3 separate regions of the Homo sapiens genome follow, and regions 1 and 3 are each linked to region 2. Evidence: fine-mapped expression QTL. A gene starts in region 2. Each other region holds a variant in brackets. All regions are shown on one strand. Distances are between the middles of the regions.

Evidence for each region. PIP is the estimated chance that this variant, and not a neighbour inherited with it, causes the effect.
Region 1: its variant is fine-mapped to the expression of NLRP6 in follicular helper T cells (Schmiedel 2018, PIP 0.95). The same link has a PIP of 0.9 or more in Th2 cells.
Region 3: its variant is fine-mapped to the expression of NLRP6 in whole blood (INTERVAL, PIP 0.97).

What each region holds. Positions count from the first base shown.
Region 1 is chr11:253,247-256,002 of GRCh38, reverse strand. It overlaps the pseudogene COX8BP. Among named protein-coding and RNA genes, the nearest start is that of PSMD13, 18 kb to the right of the region's middle. The variant T/C (reference allele first, on the strand shown) is at 1,582.
Region 2 is chr11:277,217-279,972 of GRCh38, reverse strand. It overlaps NLRP6 (NLR family pyrin domain containing 6), which reads right to left and starts at 1,566. Exons shown (of 8, transcript NM_001276700.2): 1 at 1,375-1,566; 2 at 366-646; 3 at 101-139. The coding sequence starts at 1,403. RefSeq lists an enhancer at 1-266.
Region 3 is chr11:203,714-206,469 of GRCh38, reverse strand. It overlaps BET1L (Bet1 golgi vesicular membrane trafficking protein like), which reads left to right. Exons shown (of 4, transcript NM_001098787.2): 2 at 427-518; 3 at 803-859; 4 at 1,001-2,756. The coding sequence ends at 1,168. Among named protein-coding and RNA genes, the nearest start is that of BET1L, 2.3 kb to the left of the region's middle. RefSeq lists an enhancer at 156-655. The variant G/T (reference allele first, on the strand shown) is at 1,484.

The sequences.
Region 1 (2,756 bases), 24 kb after region 2:
CCATCCATCCATCCATGCATCCATGCATCCATCCACTCATCTGTTGTCCATCCACTCACCCATCCACCCATCCATTCATCCATCCATATATCCATATGCCCATCTGTCCATCCATCCATGTAACATTGACTGAAAAAGTCTGCTAAACCAGACACTGCTCCAGGCTCCAAAGATTCAGTGGTGAACACAACGGAGTCTCTGCCCTCATGGGACTTACATTCCAGCTTCAAAAACAGAGAGTAAACAAGATATATCTAAGGAGATGTCATTTGAGCAAAGCCTAAATGATCTAAAGAAACAAGTAAAAACCTGAGGGAAAGGCTGTCCAGACAAAGGCGCCAGTGAAGGGTGGGAGTGCCCTGTGTCTGGGATGTGTTTGGATTATAATCCTGAAAGACACACTCCTGAGTCTTGAAATCCTGAAAGATCAAAATATCTAAAGTGTAAAATCTCTAATATTTAAAATTCCAAAAATCACAATCACAGGAATCATAGAAATTTTTAAAAAGTAGCGCCACTTAGAAAATGAATTTGAATGTATTCTCCAAGGAAAGCCATGTCCTAAAAGAAAAAAAAAACAGCTATTCATTGTGATGCAAGACTTCAGAATATAGTTAATGGGGTCGTGGAAGTTTGCCAGCTCTTACAGAATATCTCTGCATAGTTGCCCATAATCTACTGTAATATGACTTACACAGAAAATTCGACATATATGGCTTTTTCAAGTTGAATTTTCTGTATAGTTTTTTTAGCTTTTTTCATCATCATAAATTGTCAGCATTATTTTTTTACAGTTCACTATGCTCTCATTTTATCCTTGCATCATTTCAATACTGAAGATATAAATTAGAACACTTATACAGTGTTCTAATTTGTTTTAGGCATTTTTTGCAAAACTGACTCCACAGAAGTGCATTACCACAATGTTGTCTGTGTGTGTAGGTAAAAATGGGATATTTCCTCAATAAATGAAGAGATGTCCTTTTTGTACATCTGCATTTGTGAAAAATTTCTCTAGATCTTGGTTTTTTTGGTGACTGGCTATGTGGTGGTGAACTGTTGCGGTTCTAGATTGAGCCTGTTAGAAGGCGTAGGTTGTTCATCCTGGCTTTTCGGAAGACTGCAGTTATGAACCTGGGCGCACGCAATTCCCACCCGAGCGGTAGGTGTTCATGCATTTCCCCTCTCAACACATTTCTTTACGAATACAGCTCATCTGTGCATAACTGTCATTGGTATGACTGTTTACACTTGCAGAAACATGGATATTATTATTGTCTATTTTATTGTGTGAAGTGGCCTATGATGTGTTCTGTCATATGTCATGTTTTTATGTTTCTCAAATAAATCCCCTTTAAAAATGTAAATAGATGGCCAGGCGTGGTGGCTCATGCCTGTAACCCCAGCACTTTGGGAGGCTGAGGCGGGCGGATCACCTGAGGTCAGGAGTTTGAGACCAGCCTGACCAACATGGAGAAACCCCATCTCTACTAAAAATACAAAATTAGCCAGGTGTGGTGGCAGGCGCCTGTAATCCCAGCTACTCAGAGGGCTGAGGCAGAATTGTTTGAACCCAGGAGG[T/C]AGAGGTTGCAGTGAGCGGAGATGGTGCCATTGCACTCCAGCCTGGGCAACAAGAGTGAAACTCCGTCTCAAAAATAAAAAAATGAAAAAAAAGTAAATAAATATCTTTTAAATAATTTTAAAATTATTTTTTCCAGAAATATATTTTCAGAATTTTGATTTTTCGGGATTTCAGCATGCAGAATTGTGTCTCTCTGGGCTGTGATCAGCTCATGTCTGGGATGAGGCAGGAGCCTTGGTGGGGTGCAGGGAGAGCAGATGAGGGTAGGAGCAGGACCAGCAAGGCAGGCAGTGGTCAGAGCACTCAGGCCTTGGGGGTGAGTGAAGCCTGTTGGAGGATGCTGAGCAGCGGCAGCAACAAGACCTGATTGTTCTGGAAGACTGTCTGGGCTGCTGTGTGGAGGAGCGGTTATGGAGGACAGGTTTGAGGCTGGACTTAGGGAGGGTGGGGAGTCAGCGGGCTCGATGTACACATGAGTGTCTGAGGGAAATGGAGGCTCACACTAAGACATTTGGCCTGAGCAGCTGAGAGGGGCTGCGGAAGGTTGAAGGGTGCACCACAGGGCCTTGGGAACTTGACAGTGAGGTGGGTATAAAGGCTAGTGGTCAATAGATCCCAGCAATTGTGACTGACGAGGAACAGCTGGGGTGTCAGGCCATCTGGACCAGGGCCAAACGAGGTCTGGAGAGGGTGGGTGGAAAGACCGAGAGGGGTCTGGGGCCATGAGGTCAGGCGAGGCCTGGACGAGGTGGAAAAAACCAGGAGCTCAGACACCAGCAACCAAAGAGGAAAAGGCTGGAGAAGATGCCGGACAACTGTTCTTTGCCAGCCTAGCAGACTTGTGGGTGCTTTCCTCCAACAGGAGCAGGCCGTGGGGCTCTCACATTCATCAGCTTCCTGGTTCCTGGAGGCTGGGTCTCACCCGACCTGGAGAGCTGCAAGAGCTCCATGCTGTCACTGCAGGCCCAGGACTGAAAGATCACATTAAACTGTCCTTCCACCTAATGTTCACTCTGTGATTCTTTGTGTACGTGCACCTCCACTCCCAGACGGGGAACCTCAAGGTGGTTTCCTTTACATGCCCAGTCCCAGGGATGGCTCATGTCCGCACTGGGGCACACCAGGTCACAGATGCTGGTGGCTATTTGAATGATGAGTGGTGACAAGGATGTGG
Region 2 (2,756 bases):
GACCACAGCCCACGCCCCTGGCGGCCCTCCCACCCCGGTCCTCCCCGGGACCCTCCAAGTGGGGTTGGGGACACTCGTGCCCCCCCAGCGAGAGACCCACCGGACACGGAGAGCAGCGTCCCGGAGCCGAGCCCGAGCCCTGGAAGGGAAACTGGGGTGAGGTTCCGCCGAGGGCGGGAACAGGGGAAGGCGCCACGGGGGTCCGAGTCACCCTGAGGAGCACGCAGGGTCCTACCCCTGGGGCCCGCGAATTTGTGGATAAAACGCGCGGGGGCCGGGGACCGCGCCGGGGCTTCTCCGGGAAGCGGGAAGGAGGGCAGCCCAGCCTCTGCCCAGACAGGAGGGACCTCCCGCGCAGAACTCACGCTGCAGCCGCCGCTCCTGGAGCTGCGCCGCCACGTCGCGCGCGTCCGCCCTCTTGAGGGTCTTGCGGGCCACCTCCAGGGCAGGCTCCGGGCCGTAGAACTGGGCCAGCTGCTCCGCGAGGTCCACGGCGTCCGCGCGCTCCAGCCGCCCCCACGGGATGCTGCGTCCGTCCGGGCCCACGTCGCGCAGCTTGTGGCGGAAGCGCTTCAGCTGCTCTTGGCTCAGTTCCTCCAGCGCAGCCAGGAGCAGCTCGCGGGCCACCGCGAGGCGCGGCCCCGTGCTGGAGGCGGGCGGGCGCGGGTCATCGGGGAGCGGCCCTCGGGTGACCCCCGCCCGCCCCCGACTCTGGCGCCGGAGAACCCACCGCGGGCAGGGCCTCAGGGAGTCCCGGGCCAAGCATCGTCTGGATCCATGGGGTGGCGGGAGGGGGCAACGGGGAGTGACCCCAGACTTTTCCCTCCCCCGTCCCCGGACCCGGGTCGGGGCGTCTTGGTGTTCTTCGCCCTCTGAGGGTGAAGTGGGCACTGGCCGCCGCTGATCTGAGCTCTGGGGGGCACCTTCCTCCCCTGCACCTCCCTTTCTGCTTCTGTCCTTCCACACCCCAGGACAGGTCACATGCCCCGAGGGAGGTATTTCCAAGGAACCCTGAGCTCTCTTTCCTCGCTTTCCTTCTTTTCCCTCTCTTCCCGATCCCGGAGCAGAACTGGCCTCTTTGGCAGCAGACACTGCCAGGCCCAGGCTGTATTCCTGGGCCCCCACCCCTGCCACACTTTGGTGGGGCCCAGCTTGGGGCCTTGCACCAGGGCCTGAATCTGAGCCCCTGGTGGGGAACAGACTCCACAAATGCCCTCTGTGGGGAGGCAGTGCTTGGCTCCTGAGCCTGGGAGTGAGGGTGGGGGAAGGATGTGGACAAGGGTGGAGAGCCTGAGGAAGTCAGCGGGTGAGGTGGAGGCCCCAGAGGGCTGAGACCAGCCGGTTCCCAGTGACCACCCTGGGGCCAGCACTCACCTGGAGCAGGGGGCCTCTGGCTGGTCCATGGGGTCTCTTCCTCCCTGGGTCTAGCACTCCGGGGCAGAGGTGGGGATCAGAGAGGTGATTCCTTCACAGGCTGAGCTGGAGCCAAGTCTTAGAGGTTGTCCAGCCCGGTCCATTCCCCGGGTCCACACACCGCAGCTCAGCTGGCACGAGATGCTGTTGGGCACCGTGGCACACGCAGAGCATTGCCCTTTAAGGGCTCCGTTTGGTGACCTTTGATTTTCTTACTCCTTTATCCCATTAATGTTCCCCAAGAACCCCTGGGTGTGGCATCGGGGCATGGCTGTGAGCAGGCAGCTTCAGAGCAAGGTGGGTTGTGTGAAGGAGGTGGCTGGCTCAGAGCCAGGCCTTCAGCTGAGGCCTGGGGAGAGGTTAGACTCTGAAGGCAGGGGTGAGGAAAGACTTCCAGGTAGAGGGAACAGGGGGGACAGCCAGCAGCACGCACCATATATGGGAGGGAAGGCAGTCTCCAGGGAGACGCCGGGCAGGGGTCTGCACTGCAGCCTCCCCACCCGACCTGAACAGCTGGCGGGCAGAGGCTGGACGTCAGGGGTGTTCGAGACCCCTGGGACCAAATGTGAGAGTGTGTGGAACGGGGGGGTTAATATGTGGAAATGAGAGGTGCTGGGTAAAATAAGGCTGAGACCTACTGGGCTGCATTCCCAGGAGGGTAGACATTCTAAGTCACAGGATGAGACAGGAGGTTGACACAAGATACAGGTCATAAAGGCCTTGCTGATAATGGTGTAAAGAAGCTGGCCCAAAACCACCAGAACCAAGATGGCAATGAGAGTGACCTCTGGTCATCCTCACAGCTCATTACTCTAGTTACAGTACATTAGCACACTAAAAGACACTCCCACCAACACGATGACAGTTTATAAATGCCATGGCAAAGTCAGGAAGTTACCCTATATGGTCTAAAAGGGGAGGAACCCTCAGTTCTGAGAATTGCCCACCACTTTCCTGGAAAACTCATGAATAATCCACTCCTCGTTTAGCATATAATCAAGAAATAACCATAAAAATGGGCAACCAGCAGCCTTTGGGGCTGCTCTGCCTATAGAATAGCCATTCTTTTATTCCTTTACTTTCTCAATAAACTTGCTCTCACTTTACTCTTTTTTTTTTTTTTTTTTTTTTCATGGAGTCTCGTTCTGTCGCCAGGCGGAGTGCAGTGGCACGATCTCGGCTCACTTCAAACTCCGCCTCCTGGGTTCAAGCAATTCTCCTGCCTCAGCCTCCTGAGTAGCTGGAATTACAGGCATGCACCACCATGCCTGGCTAATTTTTGTATTTTTAGTAGAGACGGGGTTTCACCATGTTGGTCAGGCTGGCCTTGAACTCTTGACCTT
Region 3 (2,756 bases), 74 kb after region 2:
CTGCTGCCTTGCTGGGTACTTTTCCCAAGTCTTTTCTATGCTCTTAGCAGAGTTTACTCTTTTTCTATAAGAATGGGCTCCACATACACAGATGGTGACCTCCCTGGATGCAAGTGTCACATCATACTAGCACCCCAGGGCTGGGTCCAGTTTTTGCTACACAGTCTCAGAAGGTGCTGGTTGGACCGAACCCATTGTGGGTGCTTGCCCATCCCCACCTTGATGTGTACACAGGACATGTGTTCACATGACAGGCCCTTACACACATCGTCCTTTATGCAGCCTGTCTCATGTGCAAGATTCACCTGCTGGAACCTTGGTTAGGGCCCCCTAGATTTCTGACTCACCCAGATGTGGTTGGAGTGAGAGGGGTCAGGGGCCGTGCTCACCGATGGATGCAACCCTTCAGCCCCTCTCTTTTCTCAGCTCAGAGCCCGGGCGCTGTGGAAGAGATTCTAGACCGGGAGAACAAGCGAATGGCTGACAGCCTGGCCTCCAAAGTCACCAGGCTCAAATCGGTCAGTGGTGGTCTGTCCTCTTACCTCCACCTGGTGCCTTTGGGGAATGGGGATCAGAGGGAAGGCAGAGGGCCCAGAGGAGTTTCAGGCAGTTTTCCATCCTCATCCAATTCGTGGCTGTGCTCACCTGCATGAGGCCCCAGCTGACACCTGGACCTTTCTGTCTGCTGCAGCCCCACTGTGTCTGGCAGAGTTGTTGGCAGGGTTTATCTGGTCTGGGGAGGGTGAGTGCTGTATTATGTGTCTGCTCTGGCCCAACCCTGCCCTCTCTGTCTGCTGAACAGCTCGCCCTGGACATCGATAGGGATGCAGAGGATCAGAACCGGTACCTGGATGGCATGGTAAGGGCCCACGGTGTGCGTGTATCAGTGCCCTGCCCTAGCACTACCTGCTGCAGAGCCTGCAGTGTCTCCTTCAGCACTGGTGCGGGTGGGTGGTCAAATCACCACTTCTGTGTGATCTTGCTGGGATTCCTCCCTTAGGACTCGGATTTCACAAGCATGACCAGCCTGCTTACAGGGAGCGTGAAGCGCTTTTCCACAATGGCAAGGTCCGGACAAGACAACCGGAAGCTTCTATGTGGCATGGCCGTGGGTCTAATTGTGGCCTTCTTCATCCTCTCCTACTTCTTGTCCAGGGCAAGGACGTGAGCCAGTGGGAGCTGGTGTCTGTGGGTGCCAAGGGCAGCCAGGGTCTTCCCTGCCTGGTGTTTTGGGCTCCAGAGGACTTACCTACAAAATACTCCTTTGCAATGATAATTGTGGGTCAGGAATCTTCTTCCTGTGTGGCAGGAGGCTGCGGCTGCCTGTGACCTGATGAGCTCATGTTGGCTGGTCCCATGTGTGAAAGGGACTCTCTCGGGGAAACCAAGGCCCAGCCCCTCCCCCCTCCCCCAGGTGCTAGAGAGCCAGGCAGAGCTGGGGCCACAGCGTGTCTGGAGAAGCCAGGTCTGAGCAGAGCAGCTG[G/T]TGAATCCCAGACGTGGCCACCTGTGGCTTGCAGCCCTTCTCCCCGCGCTTGGGACTCTGACATCTTAAGGCTGCACGGTCGTGTCCTTGTCTGGGTGAGGCCATGTCTGTGATCCAAGGTTCCTGGAACTGACACAGGAAGGGGCTGTGAACCCTAAGTGGGTGTCATCTCCTCCGACCGAGGCTTCTCACCCTGGAGATGGCAGTTACTCCTGGCCATGGTTGCTGAGCATGGGCAGACCAGTGGAGGCCACCCTACTGTGTTATCTGCGCCTTCGATGAAGTGAGACCCTTGGGGAGAACGGGCTGTGGATGAAGGAGTGGACTGCAGCCTTGGCCTAGCCACTGGGCTGGGATCTTCTGGGTCATGTGACTGTGTATCCAGGAGCAGAAACTTGTATTCTCAGGATTCAGGATCTACCCAGCACCAAAGATGTATTTTCAGGAGAACAGACCTAGAAATGGGCCTGTCTGGCATTTCAGAGTCAGGCAAAGCAGGCAGGGCCAGGGAGCTTCTGTGGGTCTACACAAGAAGGTTCCTGTGAGGGCTATCAGTTGTTGCCTTCTAGCTTGCTGGTAACTTTGGCGCCTCCGCCAAGCCCTGCCAGACTCCCCTGGCTGTGATGGCATTCTGTGCCATCCTCCTTGTCCCCAGCCTCTGCAGGATGCCCTCCCTACCCACCTCTCCCTGGGCCTTCCCTGTCCACTGGGCTGGATTCATGTTCAAACCACTGGACTGGCAGGGCAACGACTTCTTCCCACCTCAAGATGAGGTCCTCGCCCCCTTGTCTTGGCATAAAAACACCTTTAAAGCATGAGCCATGTGCTTCTTTGCCCTTCTCTGTCCTGTTCCAATCTTCTGCCTCCCAGTCACTCCCTGGGGACTATGGGATCACTGTCCCCCCACCTGTGTGGCCACACCATATGTCCTGTCAATCCAGAACTGCCTCTGAGCTCCAGGCTGACCACAGATCAGCCACAGCCTGATGCCTGCAGCCCCACTTTGCTCACCCTTCCCCTCCCCTCCTCCTTCCTTCCACACAGCAAGCCTACCTTTCTCCATCCATGCTCACCATAGCCCCCTTCCTTGTGACCTGGACCCTCCATTGTACCTGGCTGAGACTGTCAGCCTCCTGGAGGAGTGGGGTCCACCTTCTTCTTGCCCTATGCAGTGCAAGCTCACTTCTCACCCAGCAAGGTTGACTCATCTGCCTCCATGTCTCTGGGGCTTTGCTGTTGCCCTGAAACCTAGCTGGGCTGGTCTTGCTCCCAG